Linked DNA regions of Homo sapiens. The protein of the gene in region 2 purifies or fractionates together with the protein of the main gene of each other region. This does not show direct contact. Each region holds a gene or a part of one and is shown on either strand. Other genes may lie near its edges. The genes, in order: NECAP1, SPATA1 and WNK1.

Region 1 (3,757 bases), on a different chromosome or scaffold from region 2:
AAAAAGAAAAAGAAAAAGGTGCTATGGAAGCACACAGGGTGCATATCTAAACCAGAATGGAAGGGTCACATAGGGCCTCCCAAAGAAGGTGATGTTTAAGTGACTCATATAGTACCTGTAACTACCATCTAAAAGCATGTTGATTTCTACTTAGGGTCAGTTTGGGGTCCAACTAAAAGCTTATTAAAAACAGAACTGCTACCTCTTTGCCAAAGGTGCAACCCACAGGGCCCAGCGCACAGGTCAGCAAGCATAAAAATATTGATTCATGATGAATAAAACGCCAGTAAGGGGCAAAATAACAGACATAAGGAGAGGGTAACTTTTCAGCCAAGGTAATGATAAATGCCAGGAGGAAAAATCACAATGATGATGTGGGTCAGAGAGAAGAATAAGAACAGTATCTTGGCCAGGTGCAGTGGCCCACACCTGTAATTTCAACACTTTGGGAGGCTGTGGCAGGAGAATCACTTAAGGCCAGGAGTTCGAGACCAGCCTGGGAAATATATCAAGATCCTGTCTACACAAAAAAATTTAAAAATTAGCCAGGCATTGTGAGGCAATGCCTGTAGCCCTAGCAACTTGGGAGGCTGAGGTAGGAGGATCCCTTGTGCCCAGGAGTACACAGCTGCCGTGAGCTGTGATTGCACCACTTGCACTCCAGCCTGGATGATAGAACGAGACCCTGCCTCTCTAACAAAAAAAAAAAAAAAAAAAAACGACGGCTGGGCGTGGTGTCACGCCTGTAATCCCAGTACTATGGGAGGCCAAGGTGGGCAGATCACAAGGTCAGGAGTTCAAGACCAGCCTGGCCAACTTGGTGAAACCCCATCTCTACTCAAAATACAAAAATTAGCCAGGTGTGGTGGTGCATGCGTGTAATCCCAACTATTCAGGAAGCTGAAGCAGGAGAATCGCTTGAACCCAGGAGGCGGAGGTTGCAGTGAGCTGAGATTGAGCCATTGCGCTCCGGCCTGGGCAACAAAGTGAGACTACATCTCAAAAAAAAAAAAAAAAAAAAAAAAAAGAACAAACAAATAGTATTTGTAACTGCTTTATTGCATTTCCTACATTCTTTCACATCCATTATATGATTTAATTTTACTCTCCCAAAAACCCTTGTTAAGCACATTATAAGAGCGCAGGTATCATCACTAACAGGTTTTTTTTTCTATTTTACAGATGAGAAAATTGAGGCTTGGAAAGGGCTCACACTCATATGGTTTAACATGAAGCCCAGTGAACTGTCTTTCAACTACATAATGTCCTATAGCATCCTCAGAACCTCACAGTCATTGGATTACAAGGTAGGTAGTTAGGCCCAACAGAGAAAAATGCTGCCTCAACTTTGGAGGGAAAAGGTGTAGGAGAGGTTAAGAAGGGAGGTAGGGAAGGAAGACAGAAAATACTATATAATCATCAAGAAAATACAATGAGAAGAAACAGAATGAACAACCGTTGTAAAGCTTATGATCATAACCTTTGCTCACTGGTAAAACTGCTGAAGGAAAAACCGAATGGTGGATGATGACAGTTGGTGACGAAATTGACAACAGTACAAAAAATAAATCAGATAATCCAGAGTGGCAAGCAACACGATTACCCATAAATGTGCATGGGGAACTGGAAAGGTGTGTGTGTGTGTGTGTGTGTGTGTGTGTGTGTGTGTGTGTGAGAGAGAGAGAGAGAGAAAGGATGAGGATGATAAGCTGAAGGACGCAGGGAAGAGCGAATGAAAGGGGACTGGCAATGGAGCAAGCACGACTGAAAGTGCATGATGGGGAGCAGATGGGTGCCCCAGGGGATTACGGGAGAGGCAGAGTGGAATAACGCAGAGTGGTAATTTAATAAAAAACAAAACAAAAAAAAAAACGGCAGAAATATGGTGATGACAGTCCAGAGTGGAGATGGAGCAGGTGGTCAGGGAGATGACAACCCAGGTAGGGAGGCTAGCAAGGTGACAATACAGAGGTAGTAGTGGCAGGGACGGACAGCGTGCTAGCTGAGAAGGAAGCTGTCATCTGCGACAGAGTACGCGTGTGCGGCAGCGCCTCGGGGTTAGTACCTGTAACCGCGGTTGGAGGCCCGGGGCGGAATCCGGTAGACGCTGACGTCTGGCTTCACACACAGCACAGACTCGTACTCCAACTCGGTCGCCATCTTGGGTCCGCTGTCGGCGCTGCCGGGGGCGAAACGTAAGACCGGAGGCGGAGCACGGGAGGCGGAGATGCAAAGCGCGACAACTTCTGTTGCGTCACTTCCGCGCGAGTTCAAGTTAGTTTCTGAGATTAACCTTTTCGGTGACGCGGGGAGCCATATTGAAACCTGGAAACGATGAGGCTGCACGGCTCACCGTCTTGGATAATGGCAAAGATGGCCTGCAAGTGCGTGACTCTCGTTATGGAAATCTCTGTCCTGGAGAGGTGCTTACGAAAAGCGCCATCTTACTCTAGGCAGGTGCCTGGAGTGTCCTACGAGGACGAGGACCATATTGAATCGTGACGGATTTTCTTACAGGAGTCACTTCCTAACTGTAGTCTCCTGGCAGAAAAGAGGCAACCTCCAGCCGGTAGTCCCAGACGAGGTACCTGCAGAGAATGATGTATGATCTGGTCATAGACACCGTGGATTTCAACTCTCCAGAGTCTAAACGCTGAAAACACCCAACTTGATTTAGTGCCTTACACTCTTTATCTCCGATTTTTCAGGACGACACCTGTTAAAATGTTTTGCCACACTTTCGGCGTGTATTCCGATTATCTTTTTGGAAAATTTGATCCTGTTAAATAGACTATACGTGGGATCAACCCAATTCCTGATAAAATCGGAAGCATAATGAACTATCTAATGGCCTATATTAGCTCCCAGTTCTATTATAATGATAAATGCTACCGAACTCTCACCATAAATATGCTTTTTCTGCGCCCCAAAGGTAAACTTAACCACAACACCCTGACAGTACAGATAGCAAGTGGCAAAACTGAGACAGAAACTCAAGCCTGCCTCATTACAACAGCAGCAGTCTTCACCGCTGCTGGAGCTGGCAAGGTCACCAAGTCTGCCCAGAAAGCTCAGAAGGCTAGATGAATATCATCCCTAATACCTGCCACCCCACTCTTAATCAGTGGTGGAAGAACGGTCTCAGAACTGTTTGTTTCAACTGGCCATTTAAGTTCAGTAGTAAAAGACTGGTTAATGAAAACAATGCATCGTAAAACCTTCAGAAGGAAAGGAGAATGTTTTGTGGACCACTGGTTTTCTTCTTCAGAAGGAAAGGAGAATGTTTTGTGGACCACTGGTTTTCTTTTTTGCGTGTGGCAGTTTTAAGTTATTAGTTTTTTAAATCAGTACTTTTTAATGGAAACATCCAAAAATTTGTCACAGAATTTTGAGACCCATTAAAAAAGTTTAATGAGAAAAAAAAAAAAAGCAAACCTGCCTCTAATTTGTCTGCTCCACCTTGGAAAGTGATATCTTAAATTTCAAAAAGAATTACCACATTTATCCCTGGCGAGGACGTGAGGAACAGTCTAATCTCATACACTGTTGGCAGGAATGTAAATTGGCACGGCATTTTTAAAAGGGAAATTAACAGAATTTATCAAAATATTAATTGGACGTAATCTTCAATTTAGCAGTTTCACTAATAAATATTGTAGAGAAATCCTTATATGCACAAAAAAGTATGTACAATAATACTACAGCATTGTTTGTAATAGTGAAAAAAATGGAAACAAAATGACCATCTATCAATGGG
Region 2 (3,657 bases):
TTTGTTGAAATAACCAGTGTTAAATAATAGCAAAGATAGATATGGTTGGGCACCTTCATTGCATGATTAATAGGATAGGCATTAACTTCTTTTAGTATCTGTGATAAATTAAAAATTATATTCCTATTAGAATTTGAGTACTTTTGACCTGTCATTCATTTGATGTAGGCTTTGCATTATCCTCTTCAAAGTTTGGATTGGTTTGTATTCCATCAGTCAACTAAATAAAAGATTGCTTGTTCTTTTGTTTTTTTTTTTAATTTTTATTTTTTTGAGCAGGGTCTCACTCCATCACCCAGGCTGGAGTGCAGTGGCACGATCAGGGCTCACTGCAGCCTCAACCTCACAAGCTCAGCCTTAGCCTCCTGAGTAGCTGGGACTACGGGTGCATGCCACCATGCCCAGCTAATATTTTCATTTTTTTCTTTTTCTGAGACAGAGTCTTGCTTTGTTGCCCAGGCTGGAGTGCAGTGGCACTATGATAGCCCACTGTAACCTCGACCTCCTGGGCTTAAGTGATCCCCCAACCTCAGCCCCCTGAGTAGCTGGGTATACAGGCATGCACCACCATGCCCAGCTAATTTAAAAAAGATTTTTTTTTTAAGGAGATGGAGTCATACTATGTTGCCCAGGCTGGCCGCAAGTGATCCTCCCACCTCAGCCTCCCAGAGAGCTTCAATTACAGGCATGAGCCATTGTGCCTAGCCACATACCTATTTAAAGTTGAAAAATAACTTATTCTGTTAAAATTACGAAGTAATTATTAATTGAGGGTTCCCAAACTGTGTTTCAGGCAAGACATTATAATTATGTTCTATCAATAAAAGGTTCAAGCCTTGGGAGGCTGAGGTGGGAAGATCACATGAGGCCGAAGTTCAAGCCAGCCTGAGCAACATAGGGATACTTTGTATCATAAATAAATCAACAACCAAACTAAATAAACCAATATGTTTGGGAACTGATACATACCCCACCCCATTTTTGGTTATTTAATAGTACATAATAACATTAAAGGCTCTAAAAAGTAATAAAGTTTTTTAGCTGAACATTCTAGGTAATCTGTGAATATGTCTTGGTGGAAAAACATGTTTTGCAGCATTGGGCAAGAAAAGGACTGATAGTTCCAGGGATTTGTTCATTTTTCTCTTTGTTTCCTCCCACTATAGATGACACATTTCTTATCCCCAGCTTACTTACAGAATATTTGCAAAACATGGAACACTTGTACTTTCTAAGAAACTCTGAGACCATCACTGCTAGAAAGTTAAGATTTATAAAACTTTTTTGAAACTTTAGAATCTAGAGTATCAAGTATATCATATCTTAGAATTAATAGATATAATTAGCATACTTTCCTGAAATGTGTCATTCTTCCTAGAATTAGATTTTGTGAATATTTTATTTCAGTATGATCTTAATTGTTTTGAATGTTTTCTCCTATTCAAAGAGAAATGGTTTAGAAAGCAAGATATAGAATTTATGGTTCTTAAGGGATGTTTTATAACATATTAAACAATATTAGTGTTTTTTATAAATGTACTTGTTTTTACAAACAGATTCTGAACGGTTGCATAGCTTGTATGAACACATTGACATATGAAGAGAAACAAATATGCTTTTTCTCTCCTGCTTGACTAGGATATAATGACTACATCAAGATGAGCATTAATCCTAAGAAACTTGTAATGGGTGTTCCTTGGTATGGTTATGATTATACCTGCCTGAATCTGTCTGAGGTAGGAACAGTCATTTGTTACATAATTTTTATTATCTATTATATTTTTTAGAGTCTCTCTGTTTTCATTAGAAATATATAAACTTTAGAATCTCTGAAATATAGTTTGAGATAAAAATTATTTATTTTTACTTCTATGAAAGCTTATGATTATCATACATTTTCATTTAATAATGAAATTTATTTTAACCTTTTTTCTGTATAGTCAGGTTTTCTATGGTATATGTTTTATTTCTAAATAATTTATATATTTTTGGTTTGGCTTTTAAGAATTGCATAATTGATAATATATAACATGAGCACTTTTGCATTTCTAGGATCATGTTTGTACCATTGCAAAAGTCCCTTTCCGGGGGGCTCCTTGTAGTGACGCTGCAGGACGTCAGGTGCCCTACAAAACGATCATGAAGCAAATAAATAGTTCTATTTCTGGAAACCTATGGGATAAAGATCAGCGGGCTCCTTATTATAACTATAAAGTAAGACTTTTCGTAAGTTATGAGCATTTATTCTATTAGTTTTTGTAATTATTTTCATAATTAGATGTTTGATATCAAGAATTTCTATCAGTTTTCTTTTAGGGCATAACATGCAGACTGCTATTTACATGAGTAAACTTGTCTTTGAATCTGTAATCAGGAACTTTAGTTCCCTGGCGAGCAATTGGAGTTTTGCTAATGGTGAATCTACTCTGCTTGGGCCACTTGTCATTTAGATGATGCCATAAAAATGTGCATATCACAAACAGGATTTCTGTAACAGTTGACAATTATGTTAGGATGACTGTTGATTTTGAATGGGTTTTGGGCCAAAATAAGTTACTATCTCTGAAAGCCTCCATTTCAAAGTGGCCTACAGATTCTGATGAGACTTACATAGGGAGGAATGAGGCTGAGAACAGAAGAGGTGTCATAATCGACTTTACAATGGAAAAACTATCATTTTCAATTTATTTTATAATTAAATTATAAAGCAATGTCAAAACTTACAAAAATATTACATAAAGGAAACCTGAAGAAATACACTAAGTGATTAGCAATTCTGTCAAGTAGTGTTTAATAGGAATTGCTATACCAAAATGGCAAAGAAAAGTTACAGTTTTCATAATTTACCTTTAGCATTATAAAGGCTCTTCCACAGCTCAAAAATCTAAGTACAAATCCTCTTTGAATTTATTTCAGATTATGTTACTTTAAAAGGAGTACTAAAATGATATAAGTGAAGTTCAGCAAGGATTTATATGCTTAATTAATGGTCTGGTACCCATTTATAAAAAAATGACTGCAAACACACTACATGTCATAAATTATAATTGATATACATGTGTATGCCTCCACAGAGAGCTTTAGTGTAGAGCTTTCTAAACTTTGGAACTGAAAGTATATACCTATTAGTGAAACTAGAGTGTATTGTAATCTTATCTTTCCTAAACAGTGTTTATATTAGTCTGTCCTGGGAACTGTTAATATTACACACACAGATGCACATGTGTGCAAAATATACACACGTGTGCCATGGCCAAATATATTTAGAAAAACACTATATACTGTACGCCCCTCTTGGAGATTTGTAACAACAATTATATTAATGGGTTTGAGAAGTGCTGTAATACATAAGGTAGTTTAATTGTTTGACATATAATCTTGTTTCACAGCATTCTTAGAAACATGCAGTTCTTAGAAACTGTTTCATGGATATGGTTTGTTAAAAGTTATGGTAACCAATTACATATACAGGCATACCTTAGAGATATTGCAGAGTCAGTTCTAGACCACCACAATAAAGTAAATATAGCAATAAAGCAAGTGACATGAATTTTTTGTTTCCCTGTGCATATAAAAGTTATGTTTATACTATACTGTAGTCTGTTAAGTGTGTAATAGCATTATGTCTAAAAAAAGTACATACCTTAATTTAAAAAT
Region 3 (3,657 bases), on a different chromosome or scaffold from region 2:
CATATTCTGTCACTATCACAGGGTATTATTTTCCTCTTTCTTACATGTATACTTCTTCCCTACAGATGGTGGCAAGGAGGTCTGGGTATTCCATCCTGTTAACCATTCCATCCACCGCAAGCACACAGCTTCCTTCTACCCTTCCACAGTCTAATCCTACATCTGTCTTGGCTTCTATCAATCTATTCTTGCACAGTCTTTGCTTAGGCCTTTCCCTCTATCTAGGCACTAGCTATTTACCCTTACCCCTCCACATGTCTCACTTGCTATTTTTTGTCACACTTTATACTCCCTTAGAAATCTGAATCCATGTTTTTAAATGAGAAAATAAGTTTAAAACTAATTTTCTAACTCCTGATTTACGGACTTTCACAATGCACTTTCCCCCAAATGTGGTGGCTGATGGAGTGCTTTCTCTGTTGGGGTTTTTACTTCATTGTGGCAAGTTCCTCAAATAGTGTTCCCCTGTACATTGGGACCAAAGAAATAGGGATAAATTCCAACTCAGCTTCTCAAGTAAGCAATTTACCATGTTTTTCTTATTTCTTATATATGATTCAAAAATAAATTCCTAATTTAGTTTAAAAGTTTACTGGCTTGTCTCATGTCAGAAGATTTTTCCTGGTCACAACAGATTCACAATTAGTACTTTTCTTATGGAAATTCAACAAATGTGTTGGCGGTGGACTGCGGTGGGAAAGAGAAATAATAAATATTACAGGTAATTCTGTCCACCACTGCACTCAAGTGAGCAGAACTGTGTGAGATGGGAATCTCAAGTTCATGAGGCTGGTCTCAGTTCCTCCATGAGTGATCTCATAATGTTAGCATCTCACTGAGCTCGGTGGCTTTTATTTTAAAAGAGACAGCACACATAGTTTTCATGAAACATCACCCCTATACCTACCTATAAGTAAGCTAATTCCTTCATTAGGTGGCTAGTGAAAGAAATGATCAACATTCAAGAAGAGACTGGTTGCTCTGGACTCGCGGAAAAAGTTTCTCAGTTGCCATATTGTGCTTCTCCTTTCTAGGGCACTCTCAAAGTTAATTTTGATTATATACGCAATTTCGCTATTCTACAGAAGTGTGAGTGATAAAGGGAGCTATATGGGTCTGACAAAATGTTTGCTTTGCTGTTTTCTTCCTTCATAAGATATAAAAAAAAAATTAGTATCAAGTGTTTTTGGATAACCGGAAGCAACATTACAAACAAAAGAGCTATGAAGCTTCTTACTTAAGTAGGAACTGGGTCATTGGTTATAACATTTTAAAAGAAAGGTGTTACTAAGTCAAAGACAAATAGGCAAAAGCCAAGACCACGTAGTGGAGAACTTCAGCAAGCTTTGTCAAAGAAAGTAGGGCACAGGAAGAAATTTGTCAAGTCTTGAGGCACCTGGGTTAGAGAAGGTCCTGGAAAAGGTGGCAGCTGCTCGCTGGGTAGAGTACCTGCTGGAAGTTCAGTACCCACTGGCAGCACCTACAGACAACAAAGGGAAAATCAAGTCCGTGAGACGCTAAATATAAAGACTGCGTACTGAAGAGCAAATCAACTAATTTGAATGCACAAACATAAGAATAAAATATATATAGTTAAGACATGTTTATCACTGAGGTTACTCTCTGGTATCTGTCTTAAAAAAACGGTGTGACAACTAATGTTGTTATTATAGGGGTTACTACGATATACCTATAAAATGAATAGTAAAATACAGTAAAAAGTTGTCCCCTAGGGAGAACAGAACAAAGGCTATATGTACATAAGTGGCAGTGTCCAGATATTCTTGAGCTACTTATTTGGTACAGTATGTATCAGACTTTCGCCATGTAAAACAAGATTTTCTGAGAAAAGAAAACAGTAACTGGTTAAGAAATAACCAATGGGCAGGTCTGATAACAAAAGGCATCAGAAATCTAATACTATTATCAAGAATTTCTATTTTATCTGAGTGAAGATTCTGCATTATCCTACTATAAAAAGAACCTCACATCAATGGCAATGCAGAAAGAGGCTGAAGCATACAATACAGTAGACGTAACACAGCCTTGTTATTTGGAGAAGGTGGCAGAACAAGAGGAAATCCACCACAGCATAATTAGATAATAAATTTTAGTTACTTCAGTCCTAGGATTAGATTATTTATTTCTCCTCTGTATCAATTTCCTTACTAACTTCCAATTTTTTATAACCCCCAAACTGTACAACTGTGGAATCTACAACAAAACCAAAAATTTGCTTCATTCTCACTGAAACAAAGACTATGAACTGCTATTATTTACGTACATTTTGCTGACAGATGCATTTAGCTCCCTTTTGGGATACAGACTTCTTCAGTTTGTACCAATTCAGAAGAAATACCTGTATTTTACCCGATAATTATACCATCTTGGAAAACTGTGCAGCATAATTAACCCTAAAATCCTGCCACACTTGAAAAAAAAATCTCATGTTCATTGTAGATATACCCTCAAACTGCTGTCAATTTAATAAATACTATAAGCCAGGTACCTTTATAAATATGTTTCTAACTTACAAGGCTGAAGTGAAAAATGTACTCATTAGGGAGAAAAAAAACTGATCATATTTATCTAATTATTTTATAACAATAATTTTACCGGAGCCTTAGTTAGAGGTGGCTTGGAGGGAGCAGTTCCAGGTTTCACTCCTGATGTAGTAGTGCTGACTGGGGTAGAAACTTGCCCAGGTGTGACCACTGGTGTAACTGGCAAAGCAACTGTTCCTAGTGGTAAATTGGTTGGTGGTAAGCAAGTACTTGTGGTAGAAGTCAGGAGTTTGCTTGGTGCAACAGCAGTAGTTGGGATGCCTGGTGTGACAGTGCTCTCTATGACTAGTGAGGTCTCCAGTGAGACAGAGGCATGCTGAGCTCCAGATGAGCTGTGTTCACTGAACAGAGACCGCAGCTTTTCTTCTAGAGTCTTTATGTCATCAATTCCAGGAGCTTTGGGTTGTGTATCAGAATCTACTTCAGGACAATGAGTATGGGGCTGGTTGGGAAGCAAAGCTGGTTGAGGCTGACTATGAATTAGTGTCTGCTGTACAGCAGGCACATTGGCAACAGGCTGTACCAAGGGTGGGATACTAGGTACTTGGGGTAATAAAGGTGTAGAAGTAGGTCCTGCTGCTTGGGGAAGAATAGGAGTAGAAGCTATCACTGATGGAATGACCAAAGGATGCAGCCCACCAGGCTGAGAAATATAACTAGACACTCCTGCTCCAGGAGAGGAAGAGGAAGATGGTGCAGAGAGGGAGAAAGCCAATCCAGTTGTACTGCTATGAGATGTCTTATCTAGTGAGTGTGCGCTAACTACCACGGTTTCAGCTAAAGTAGGAGTAGAAGTACTGCTGCTAAGCTGAATGCACAGCTGTGAAGCTGTGCTTGGGAATGAAGTGGTGGTAGAAACTGATGTTAATGTGGCTCCCACAGTAGTGCTGCCTGCTGCCTGCTGAGATACTACAGCTGGAGGCTTAGGACCTGGGGTAGCAGTACTGCCCCCTGCAGAGGCTGAAGTTGCTGAAACTGTTACTGAAGGATACAGTGCTGTACTAGAAACAACGATCTCAGATGTGGATGTGGGGACTTGAAGTGACGGGGATGTAGTAGATATTGAGACAACTGCAGGTATTGTGATACTTGA

The links.
Region 1: the proteins of SPATA1 (region 2) and NECAP1 purify together in Homo sapiens (affinity purification with mass spectrometry; one large-scale study listed by BioGRID and IntAct). This does not show direct contact.
Region 3: the proteins of SPATA1 (region 2) and WNK1 purify together in Homo sapiens (affinity purification with mass spectrometry; one large-scale study listed by BioGRID and IntAct). This does not show direct contact.

What each region holds. Positions count from the first base shown.
Region 1 is NC_000012.12:8,080,692-8,084,448, reverse strand, and holds the start of NECAP1 (adaptin ear-binding coat-associated protein 1), read right to left. Parts: upstream 2,176-3,757; 5' UTR 2,161-2,175; coding exon 2,066-2,160; intron 1-2,065. UniProt on the Homo sapiens protein: Involved in endocytosis.
Region 2 is NC_000001.11:84,561,814-84,565,470, reverse strand, and holds part of SPATA1 (spermatogenesis-associated protein 1), read right to left. Parts: intron 2,215-3,657; coding exon of another isoform or gene 2,053-2,214; intron 1,737-2,052; coding exon of another isoform or gene 1,639-1,736; intron 1-1,638. Other genes in the region: CTBS (di-N-acetylchitobiase precursor), read left to right, coding at 1,639-1,736, 2,053-2,214.
Region 3 is NC_000012.12:885,044-888,700, reverse strand, and holds part of WNK1 (serine/threonine-protein kinase WNK1), read right to left. Parts: coding exon 2,617-3,657; intron 1,481-2,616; coding exon 1,397-1,480; intron 1-1,396. UniProt on the Homo sapiens protein: Serine/threonine-protein kinase component of the WNK1-SPAK/OSR1 kinase cascade, which acts as a key regulator of blood pressure and regulatory volume increase by promoting ion influx.